Linked DNA regions of Homo sapiens: region 2 is linked to region 1. Evidence: fine-mapped expression QTL. Tissue or cell type: whole blood. Region 1 holds a variant in brackets; the other region holds the start of a gene. All regions are shown on one strand. Distances are from middle to middle.

Region 1 (6,005 bases):
GGCTTTGTCCTGTGTGCTTGCGCTGGCTCCAGGAAAGGCATGGCTGCTGCGCGTCCGTGGCTGTCTGTGAGCTTTAACATGTGGATTCTTGCCTCACCACAAGCACCTTTCTCTTGTCTTCTGGATTTCTGCAGGTTTCACACCTTTTGCTTCTTCCCTTAGCCTTTGTCACTCCTTTTTCAAAAACACTGTGGCGGCTTCAAGTCCTTGTGACCGACCTGCTTGGTTAGAAAACATCTTGTTAATGAAGAAGATGCCAATAGGTGCTGGTGTCGGCCATCCCGGCCCTGGCAGCTGCAGGATCTGTCGTTGACTGAGTTAACGAGAGCCCCGGCCACCAGGCTTGGCTTCCTGTGCCAGCGGGTGGGGATGAGATGGCAGGGGTCTAACCCTGGACCCCATCCGGATAAATACAGAAGGGGCCAGAAACAGGCGTGTGTTTAACAAATGAGTTTTAGTGACTTACATGCTGTGGGCTTTTGTTCGAGAGCAGGGGAGGAACTGAAGTTGTTTGATGTGCAGTGCTTGCTTTTAAAATTCTAACAATGAGGCACACAGAAGATACTGTGATAACTGTGTCTTCTTGGGCACCGTTGAATGATAATGCTCTATCCACGGAGACCATACTGAACTTCATTTTCCTTCTCTTGCAGGTGACATCACACAAAAAGGATATGAAAAGAAGAGGTCAAAGTTAATTGGAGCCTACCTTCCGCAGCCTCCGAGTAGGTAACCCCCATGAGTAGCATGAGTCCTCTCATTTCCCGCATTCACTATGTGCCAGAGAAACATCTGGAGGCAGACGCTCCCTTGCTTCCCAGTCGGCAGGAGGAGGCGTCTGGCGTTCACCCTCCAGGCATTCAGTTCCTTTGAGTGATCACACGTGCTGTGTGAATATACAAGGCACAGAGGATTTTTCTATAAGTGTGCCTAATAGGTGTTTTCTCTATAAGTAGAGATCGGTATTGGGTTGGTTACTTTAAAATGCTATAATCGTAAAAATATGAGTGCATTAGTGATTTCAACATATTTGGTTTAGAGAGCTATTTATTACTATTGATTCTGGTTTAATCCAAGGCTTCTGTTGGTGGCACAGGCCAAATCTAGACAGTGCTGTGATACCCCGCCCAGGACTTGGCAATCGTGAAAGCTGGTTGTGTGTTGAGATGTGGTTGCAAACATCCATGATGATTCTTGAGAAGGGCAGTCGGTTTCCCGCCAGCGTTTCTACGTGTGCAGATTGGCAGCTTTCCTGCACTTGAGCTGGGTTCTGTAAATGTCAGGAAAAAGAATCTCATATTAGATGGGGATTCTAGCACCTCAGTTCCCAGCTGGCAAGCTCAATTCAGCCCAAGAGCGACCTTGAAAATTTGGTAGGCTTGAGGAATGGCTTAAAGCTAACACAAGCAGTTTCTTCCTCAAACATAAAGGCTAGCAACATAAATTTTAAAGGTGGAAATTGAACTTGCATAGTTCTTACCATTGAAAGAAGATTTTAGAAGGTTTAAGGATGCACATGTCCACACCTGCACAAACCCCGATTCTGTTCTTCCCGAGGCCCGTCCGGGTCCTGTTGACTCAGTAAGGAAAGTTTCCTGAGGCTCAGGCTGCAGGAAACGGTGTGGAGATTCTGCTATTGGTAGTTTTGTTTTCATTTCGTGTTTTTCTTGCCTTGATTTTTGAGACAGTGATGTAACAGTGAACATGTTTCTGTGGACCTTGCTTAGCAGAGGCTTAAGTCAGGGATAGACGCCGAGGAACCCGAGAGAAGGGGAGCAGAGGGCTGGGCTGGAATGCTGGGGCGAGAGGCTTCAGGGCAGTGCTGGGTAGATCCCCTGATGGCCTGCGCCCCCTCCCTCATTCTCTTCTCGCAGAGCCATGGGGCGACAGCTGCCCCCGCCCTGTCCCTGTGAGTTCCCCTCTGCAGGTGCCCTCATGTGCTGCAGAAGGTGGGGTCTGACTGTAGGCCACGGACGCTGTTGGTTTTAACTTTCTTGCCTTGCCAAACAAAAGTGAAACAGAAGCGGTTCCTCGCTTGCCAGGACGGTTCTCCAGCGCACCGTGCCTCCCGCGGTGGCCCTGGCCTTAGCCGGGCGCAGAGGGCGGTCGTGCCCTGTGGTCCCCTTGGTGGTCTGTGTGCTGTCCTGCATGGGGTCGGCAGCTCTGCTCAGCGCTGTAACAAATTTAAAAAAAACTAAAGTTTGAATTAATTAGTTTTTTTTCAACTTGTTACAGCAGCGAATGGAGCTGCCGTGGTTCGGTGTAGACTGCAGCACAGTGAAGGAGCGCCGAGGAGAACATTCCGCTCTGCCCACATCGGGGTGTGCGACGTCCGAGAAGCTGCGGCTCGGGAGCGGGTGGCCAGCACCGCAGGGAACCGGCCTCTGTTTTACTTTCGTTTCGGTGAGCGCTGCTTTGCTGAGAGCCAGCCCCACAGCAGGGTACACATTAGAAAAGGGCCACCCGCCGAGTGCCATCC[C/T]GTACAGACGTGTAGGGTGTGGCCTTGGGGGCCTGAGGGTCCCATTCTCCAGTGAGCCAGGTCGCTCCACAGGCCCAGAGCTCGCCAGAGACCAGGTCTGTCCCTGTGAATCAGGGCCCAGTTCTGCGTTTCCTATTGAAGTAGAACGTTGCTTTTACAATTCCCCTTTCTCAGTTGGGCACCACTTAGAAAACACTTAAGAAGAATGCGTGACAAATTATAAAACTTCTTAAAGCCACTGGTATTCTACAGACTTTCATCTTATAGCCAAAGACCCAATTAAAGGATGAGCTGATGGGTCTTGGCCTCTGAGATCTGCTAGAAGGAGTGATTTTGAGATTTCCATCTCCAAAGAGCAAAGTAAGGGTTTTTGAAATAGAAAAAGCAGTTAATCATAGAGTATGTTCTTAGAGGTAAGGATTCTGTTCAAAGGTAAGAATTACTTTGGCGGACAGTATTTTGAATACAGGAATTTCATGATGCAAAAAGGGAGTTCAGTGCATTTTCCACCAGAATGAAGAAAATCATATGCAGGTGGAAGTTTTAGGTTCGTGTTCAGGGTTACACTTCAAAATGTGTTTTAAAATCACATACAAGGCCGGGGGTGGTGGCTCACGCCTGTGATCCCAGCACTTGGGGAGGCTGAGGAAGGGGATTGCTTAGGTCCAGGTGTTTCAGACCAGCCTGGGCAACAAAGGGAGTCCCCGTCTCTACAAAAGAAAAAATTAGGCATGATGGTGGGTGCCTGTGATCCCAGCTATATGGGAGGCTGAAGCAGGAGGATTGCTTGAATCCAAGAAGTCAAGGCTGCAGTGAGCTATGATTGTGGCACTGTGTTCCAGCCTGGGGGACAGAGCGAGACCCTGTCTCAAAAAAAAAAAATTGGTAAAATGAAGTCATAGAGGCAAACTTTATTATTACAGTTGGCCACTGGGGTCTCAGAAGAGGACACCCCGCCTCGCCTCCTGGCCTCCACTGCGTTCCTCCTCTCTGGGCCCTCTCAGGAGCCCTCTCTGGGCTGATTCCCTCGCACCCTCTCAGGAGCAAGGGGCAGAGCTGATGAGAAGGCGACAGGGCTGGGTTTTAGCCACGAGGTCCATTTCAGAATTTATCTGCCGGAAACGTGAGGAAAACAGGAGAAGGACGGCCCGGGCCGCCTGATTGAGGCCCAGACACCAGACTCAGGATGGGGGGACTCCGGACAGCGGTGCTAGGGCCCCAGCGAGGCTGTTTCCCTGCCGACCTTCATTTGGAGACGTTGCTTGTGACACGCAAGTGTGCACCATGTGCAGCTGTCCTGGGAAGCAGCAAGGAACGCAGACGTTTCCAAAGCCGAGGCTGCTTTCTTGGTTGGCCCCATGGGACGTGACTTCCTTTGTGCAGGATCTTCGTGGAAAACATCTTTCTTTCTTGTTCCCCTGTGCTGCTGCGCACTTGCCTGTAAGGGGTTTGTGTTCTGATTAACTTCCACCCTTTTTTCCTAACATTTACATTCCTATTCCTCCAGAAACTATTCTAAAAGTGTTTCTAGGATGTTGTTTGGGATGCAGAATTACGAGCTACAATGGGGGTTCTGTTCCCTAGGCCAGCCAGGCACGTCCCAGCTGCTCAGGAGGGCAGCGTCTGTCGGGGCCTCCAGTCGGGATTCAGAAGTGAGCGTTGGTGCTGAGCACCTGCCTAAATCTAGTTGAGGAAAAGACTGTCCGGAGCCAGGAAGAAATGTGAGTTATACATGCAGTGAAAGAAGGGTCAGAGAGGGTGCCTGGAAGATCATCTTCAGGGAGAAGACGCTGCTTAGGGAAGCTGCCCACTTCGCTCTCACCCTTCTGCGGTTCAAACCCATCCCTCATCAGTCTCTAAGCCCAGTCAAAGTTGTAAACCTAGGAAATAAAATCCACTGCCTGGCAGCCTCTTCAGAGAGATCTTAATAACAGTGTCGACTTGGATAACAAGGCCTCACTGCTTGTATGACACAGGCCGTGGAGATTTAGAGAGTAAAATTTCAGTGTGGCTATAAATGGTGGAACCTTCTTTGCTCAGATACAGCTCCTCTTTCTCACAGCAACTTCTTATGTGTTTGTCTGTGAAATGTTTCTTGGTATTGAGTGATTTATGAAGATCTGGTATTCCTCTCCAAGCCCAGCTTGCTTTTCCTTCAATAGCCGGACAGCTTGATGCCCAGGTGCAAGTTACAAGGACTCTGTAAGGGGGTTTGTCTGTGCGGCACAGCCTCTCTCCATGAGGTCACGTGAGCGGCCTCTCCAGGGAAGAGGTATCCGTGGTCAGTGTGAGTTAAGCCCCACACTTTTTCCATCATGGGGTCGCGTGAGCAGCCTCTCCAGGAAGAGGCCTCCCATGGTCAGTGTGAGTTAAGCTCTACACTGTCTGCACCGGAGGCCTCTGGCCTGCAGGCTTGCACTGTGCTGTCCAACTGTTGAGTCAAATCACAAATACGGACTTGTCTCAGTTCCTCCCTGCTACCAGGGCTCCCGATGGCCACGCCGCTGTCCCTCCCGACAGCCATGCCGCTGCATCCACATGAGGAACTCTGCTCAGGCCGTGCACTTGGCCGTGTCCAGGTGGCATTTAAAGCTCAGTTTGGATGCTCTGTCCTGAGGGATTTCTCCCCTGATCCTTCAGTCAGACCATCCGGATTCCCATCTCCATGTCGTCCTGTCTCTGAAATACCACTGTCATAGTTGGGTGGTGGTTACTAAACGCTAAGTCTCCACCCCAACCCCCAGCAGCAGTATGTAAATCACCTGAGGCCCCGGCTGCCTGCTCACGGAAAGTGGACATTGGGCAGGTATTTGCTGTATGGATGTGTGGGTGCGGCACGGAGGGGCTGAGTCTGCCTGTGGGGGTGGGCCGGGGCAGCCCTCACTTCCCCCCGCCCCACTGAGTGACCGTCCCTACCGTGGTACGAGGATGGATGTGCAGTGTCCCTGAGGGCAGACGCCACCGTGTCCGCATGATGCTCAGATCCACGTGAAGCCCTGAACAGGCACCGGAGACCTTCCACTGCCTCAGGTGTCTATCTGGGCTGCAGTTTTATTTTTATTCTTGATTTGGGTAAATTTAAATGGCAGATGGTAACATGTAAGGGCTAATTAATGACTGAAATGACAGAGGGTAACATGTACCTCAGCACCATCCAATCAGTGGAATTTTATTATCTTTTCAGAACTTGGCTCCCATCCCAGTGTTTGATCCTGTGACTGGATCACATGTTCTCATGAGAACAGCTGCTCTGGCCTGAGTGCTGTTGCTTGCAGTGGCTGCCTTGCCCTGTCGCCACGGAGAGGGCTTCCTCTGAGGTCCCGTTGCAGATTCTCCCACTGGGCTTTGACAGTTGTGAGGGAGGAGGTCCCTGCAGTTGGCATTTGTGAATTTTGCACTTTGGTTACATACGGAATGAGAAAGTTTCTTAAGTACGTAAATGCCATTTTGTTCTGTCGTCTTTAGAAGACGTGGCTGGCTGGCCCTGGCCTGTTCACCTGGGCTGGCCGTTGGTTGTTCTGATTCC
Region 2 (6,005 bases), 210 kb before region 1:
GGGGGAAAGTATTGGTAGGTAGGATGAGTTTGATTGTGGACAGCATGAATTTCAAGGAGATGGTAGGAGTTCCAGATAAAGATGATATCTATCAGGCTCCTGGAAATGGCAGTCTAAGACCGAGAGCCCACACTCACACGTGTAATGTGTAGGTGCCCAAAGACCTGCTGAAAGGAACCATCAGCTCAAAATCTGAGTTTGCAATTGATGTGTTTAATGCAAATTACAAGTTTTCTTTGCAACCAACATCAGTCATAGGATCATATGCAAATGATTAAGGCCCATCAAAAAGAATATATATATATATATATATATATATATATATGTATTTTTTTTTTTGAGACTGAATCTCGCTCTGTCACCCAGGCTGGAGTGCAGTGGTGCGATCTCGGTTCACTGTAACCTCCACCTCCCGGGTTCAAGTGATCCTCCTGCCTCAGCCTCCTGAGTAGCTGGGACTACAGGTGTGTGCCACCATGCCCAGCTAATTTTTTGTAGTTTTTAGTAGAGATGGGGTTTCACCATATTGACTAGGCTGGTCTTGAACTCCTGACCTCATGATCCACCTGCCTTGGCCTCCCAAAGTGTTGGGATTACAGGTGTGAGCCACCGTGCCTGGCCCGCGAATATATATTTTTTATTCCGACATTATACCGCCCTAAATGGACTTGACACCATTTATTGCTTGGAATGCACAGTGCATCTTTGCTGTAATGAAATGAACTCAGGGCTTTGCTTTGGAGACTGGGGTTTGAATCCTGGTTCTGCTCCCCTTTCTGTCTCTAAGGACTTTTATCTGTGACGTGTAGGGGCTGTGTGGGATCTTCCCCACGGCCCCTGCATTGCTGGTCGGTCTCTTTATCATGCAAAGGGGAGAGATGATGGTGGGGCCACATGCTTGTGCCACCCGTATCTGTTGCATTGAACGCAGTCTGGAGCGAAGGACGAACCCACGGCGCACACCAGGCGGAGGCACACGGCTCGGCGCAGGAAGCACACGGGTTTGGGGTTCCTGTTTCCCAGCTCATCGTCGAATGTCATTCTCACAATTCCCCACTGAAAGGACCGATCCTTACAGGAAATGCACACACCTCTGGCGGTTGCCACCACTGCTAGATCCATGGGAAGGGCAAAGGTGGGTGAGGCATGGGCTCTGTCCTCCAGGCGCTTACACTCACAAAGAATACAGAGAAGATAAAAAAGGTCAAACGTGATGAGGGCGGGAAGTGGCCGGTGCAGGAAGAGAAAGGAGAGAGATTGTTCTGGACCTGGGGTCAGGGATGGCTGTGGGTGGCAGGGGCAGAGAAGGGGCAGGCTCTCCGGGGTGGAGGCCGGGAGCAGAGGTGCTGCGGGTCAGCCGCGTTGTTTGCAGGAGCCGGAGTGTGGAGGCCGCAAGGCTGCCGTGCAGGTGGGTCCCGGCTGGTGGGGGCTCCGGTCGAAGCGGGGTGGGGGGGTGGTGGGGGGTAGGGGTAGGGGGGTGAGGTGGGGGACCTGTGTTCCTGCGGCCCACTCTGAAAGGGGAGTGAGTGCAGCTGGGCCTCCGGGAGCCAGCGCTGGCCAATGTCCCGTGGAGGACGGGGAGGCGAGGAGGTCTTTAGGAAGCTCTGGGCCTAAGGGAGGGGCCGGGCTGGGAAGAGGGGGTACAAGGATGAAAAGGAGGCCAGGTCGTCGGGGCTTTGTGCAACAGACTGGGGAGGATGTGTGGAGACAGAGGAAGGTGATGATGAAGACAACGGGGGCGGTTCTGAGAAGCAGAACTTCCAGTGACTAAGAGTCACTGGAAGCAGCTGGCTTCATTTAGGGTTTGTGGCGTTTGGGGTGTCTAGGGGCTTCCAGGGAAGTTTGCTCAGTGGACGGTTGGAGATGCGAGGGCCTCCCCAGATGGTCAGGACTAGAGGCACAGACGGGGCTTCAGCCTCGCCGAGGTGGCACTGAGGCTGGGAGCTGATGGCCCCACAAGGAGAAGGACGGTGGGAACCCTGGGGCCTGCAGCCTGTTCCGGGAGGGCTGGAGCCAGGCTTTTCGGGCCCACCTGGCATTTGGAGATTAGGTGACCCAACCTTGTCTTCCCATCCCCTTTTCACAGATGGGGACACTGACCCTCCAGGCAAAGGCTCAGAGTCGCTCAAGGTCATCTGCTGGTCGTTGCATTCGAAACTTCCAGCCTAGCGCTCCGTCTCCGCCTCTTAAAATGTTCATTAACAAAAAACCAGCCCTCCAAGACCCGGGGCACTGCGAGTTTTCGCGCAGACGTCAAGCTGCGGCTCCAGGACGTGATTTTCGCAGGGAGCCGGGTGGACCAGGCTCTGGGGCCGGGCCCGCAGGCTCCGCTGGACGCGCAGAGCCCAGGACAGACAAGACCGCCCCGCCCCGCCCCGCCCCGCGGGCCCCGAGCCCCCAACCCGCCCCCGAGCGCGCCCCCGGGAGCGCGCGCTTCGCCGACGCGGCCGCGCGCCCCCCCGCGCGCTCCCGCTCCTGCGCGTCCTCGCGCCCCGCGCGCGCGCGCCCTGCCCCCGCGGCCCCGTGACGCGCGCGCGCAGAGACGCTCCCGCCGGGCCGGGGCCGAGAGCAGCAGGGCCGGGTCCGGGTCCGCAGCGCCTGCGGGGAGGGGCCGAGCGCGCGCGGGGCGGGCCGGGGACCGTGGGGCGCGGGGGCGCGCGAGGCGGCCGTGGCGGGGCCGCGCTGAGGAGGCGCCGAGGGGAGGGAGGTCCCTGCGCGCCCGCCGCCCGCCTCCCGCGCCCGCGCCGCCGCCTCCTCCTCGGTGCGGTTCCGCCGGGCGCGAGGAGCCGCCGAGACCTCCGCCTGCGAACAAAGAGGAGGCCGTGCGGGGCGCGGCGCCCGCGGAGCATGGCGGACCGCAGCCTGGAGGGCATGGCGCTGCCCCTGGAGGTGCGGGCGCGCCTGGCCGAGCTGGAGCTGGAGCTGTCGGAAGGTAACCGGGCCCCCGCCCCGGGCCGGGCCGCGCTGTCACCGGGGAGGGCCGCGCGCGGAGGGCTGGGGGCGCGGGGCCTGCGGCGGGGCGGGGGCCGGGCCCGGAGGGGGAGGTGCGACCCCAGCCCGGAGCGTGCGCGTCCCCCGGACCCCCAGACCCCGCGCCCTAGGGACGTTTGTGAGGCCGCGATCCCCCGCGCTCTGGGGACGTTTGTGGGGCCGCGATTCCCCGCGCCCTGGGGGTGTCTGTGGGGCCTGGGATCCCCTCGCGCTCTGGGGGTGTTTGTGGGGCCGCGATCCCCCGCGCCCTGGGATGTTTGTGGGGCCGCGATCCCCCCGCGCCCTGGGGGTGTCTGTGGGGCCTGGGCGCCGCGCGGGGACGCAGGATGCAGCGGGCCCGGCGGGATCGGCCTTCCCGTGCGCTCTGCGCTGGAGCCGCGGCGTCCTTGGTGCAGCAGCGCGGTGCGCGCCACCTCCTCGCTGGCGGGTTCGGCCTGGAACGCCCGGCCAGATTTCAATGCGAAACTTGTCGTTGGACCCCGGGTTCGATCTCTGGTGGCTCAGGCCGTGCAGCGGTCCTGGCGCGGCCCGGGGGATCCCACCCCCATTGTTCGCGGGCGCTGCGCGGGGAGGGCTGGGCGGAATCGTCAACCTCCCCCCGGGCCGGGCTCCGGCCTTGCCGTCCTGGTCCTCTCGTAGGAGGGTTTGTGGCAGATCAGCCACCGCGGTCTTATGGAGGGTTGTGTACGCCTCTTATTTGCTCTTCATGGCGGAGATCATGTGCTCAACTGTCATAAGTTTCAGATCGGGCTTTGCCAGGTCTTTTCCCCAAAACCACTGAAGTTCCCAAATCTGAAATGTTTGATGTGCATTTAGCCGTCTCTGGGCTCATCCTGGTCAGGCCATTCCTGTAACGTGGGGTGGGGTGGGGGTGGGCCGGCGCGTCTCACATTTATATTTGGAGCAGTTTAGCATGGTGAACTTTTTTTGGGTAACGGTTTTGTGAGGGCCGGCAGCCAGAAAGTAAACTCATTCGTGCCAATTTTCACCGGCAGGGAGGAGCTGGTGTTGACTTTATGTTTTCCTTTTTAACACTTTCAGGGCAAAGAAGGGAGTGAGCAGGGGCCATGGTGTGCAGCCAACTGCCTTTCCAGACTTCTGGGGACGGGAAATGGTACTGTTTTTCAGTTTCAGATGTGGGGTTCCGCGAGGTGTGTCAGTGTCCTGTAACGTGACACAGTTGGCGGGGGGCAGAGTCTTCCAGGCCTGTGGGCTTGGCTGCTGCCCTCCTGAGGAGCTGAGGATGAGGAGGGCATGGCTAGGAGGCGGGAGCTGCCGTGTGCAGGGTTCGGATGTAAACTGGTAAGTAGATTGTGCAGTGCAGACAGCTCGTTTGGTGGGTAAGGAGTGTATCATTTGCAAAAGGCCCACCCTGGTTATCTGATTGTGTCAGCCTTGGGTAGGTTTCCCGGCTTGCGTCTCGGCCCAGGTGCACCCCTGCCTGCAGCACCCTCCGTGTTCGCTGTCTCAGGACAGGGGCTTCTGTGCTGCCTGCATCACACTGATGTGAAGTGTCAGTGCCCCATCCAGGTCAGCAGAGCGTAGCGCCCCTGAGCTCAGCAGGGCGAGCCCCATCTGAGGGTTCCCCCACCCACTGCTAGCCCAGAAGTTGGACCCACATTTGTTCCCAGAGTCTGGGATGTCTATGGGAATGGGTGTCCTGTGTTGGGCATTGTGGCCTTTTGAGGTGACGACACTTGCCTGTCAGTTGCTCTTGGAGGGTGAGTGATACTGTCTTGCTGCCCAGATGATGGCAAAGCCACTTTCGACGAAGGTGTGCTCAGCCGAATTCCCTGTGAACACCTTGCGTCTGTACAGGTTTTTTAAAAAGGGCTTAATGAGTTAGTTTCTTATTGAGAGACCAGGCAGAGAAAGGGGTGTGTGTGTTTGCATGCAGGAAGCCTAATTATATTTTTCCTTCCACATGAATCTTGCTGAGATCTGAGCTACACATTTAAGAAGAAAGGGTGAGAGGGTTGCTCCGTGGCTCTATTCAGCCTCTCTGCACCCTCCGGCCTGTGCTGGCCCCACTGCCTCATCTGTTTGCTGGATGGTCTTTAACTTTGCTGTGAAGTGTGGGTTTGCCCAGGTTGAGTTTATGGGGGTAGTGCTGTAAGGTCATTTGGAATTCTCTGTCTCATAACCACATAAAACAGTTTTACAGGCTTAAATTAGATGAATCAACTTGTTTTCCAGTATTGCTTAATAGAAATCCAAGAATTGAAGGATCAAAATTCTGTGTTTCTTTATGTTATTGGACTTCAAAAATTCCTCAATGTATCTGCTTTCAGAGTGAAAGCTGAAAACAGCTGTTAATGCTGAATTATTTCCCATCTTCAATCAAAATTCAAGTGGAGAGAATTCTTTAAGTTGGTTGTCATCATTTTATTAAAATATCAGAAAATATTATAGAAACATATGTGGAATTTCCAGTGCTCATTTCCTACAGAGGAGGATGGAAAAAGTTCCGTTTTAAGCACATAACATAGACTGAAGGAAAGAGTAGAGCATTCCCCTGAGGTTCCTGTGTGGGCTGCCAGCCTGCGTGGGTTACGCATTGTGTGGGTTTCTAGACCCTGGTCCAGTTCTGCTGTGCCCGCCTGCTGGGCGCCATTACATGCACTGCTGGTGTCCTGCTTTGCAGGGCTGCAGGGGCACTTCCTGCTGCGGGGCCGAGGGCTCCATCCTTCTTCCACTGCCTGTCCCTGTCCCGTGCCCTGTGCCCCCTCACAGGGGAAGGTGAGGCCAGCTCACACCACAGAGCATGCGGCCAGCAAAACACAAGGGCTCTCTGTGGGGAGAAGTGCTGGGCAGCCCTCTTGTGGGAGCTGATGGCCTCGAATCCATGTGGGGATACATTCAGGTTGTGTGGCCAGGGGGGTCATCTCCTCACATACTTGGGTCTGAGTGTGAGCCAGGGAGGAGGCCATGCAGGTAAGGAGGCCACACGGTCAGGAGGCTGTGTGGGTGGGGAGGTTGTGCGGGTGGGGAGGCTGTGTGGGTGCGGAGGCTGT

What was found. PIP is the estimated chance that this variant, and not a neighbour inherited with it, causes the effect.
Region 2: DIP2C starts here. The variant in region 1 is fine-mapped to the expression of DIP2C in whole blood (TOPMed, PIP above 0.99).

The regions. Positions count from the first base shown.
Region 1 is chr10:481,179-487,183 of GRCh38, reverse strand. It overlaps DIP2C (disco interacting protein 2 homolog C), which reads left to right. Exons shown (of 37, transcript NM_014974.3): 2 at 654-725. Among named protein-coding and RNA genes, the nearest start is that of DIP2C-AS2, 140 kb to the left of the region's middle. The variant C/T (reference allele first, on the strand shown) is at 2,480.
Region 2 is chr10:686,421-692,425 of GRCh38, reverse strand. DIP2C (disco interacting protein 2 homolog C) reads left to right here and starts at 2,758. Exons shown (of 37, transcript NM_014974.3): 1 at 2,758-2,932. The coding sequence starts at 2,848. RefSeq lists an enhancer at 1,448-2,383.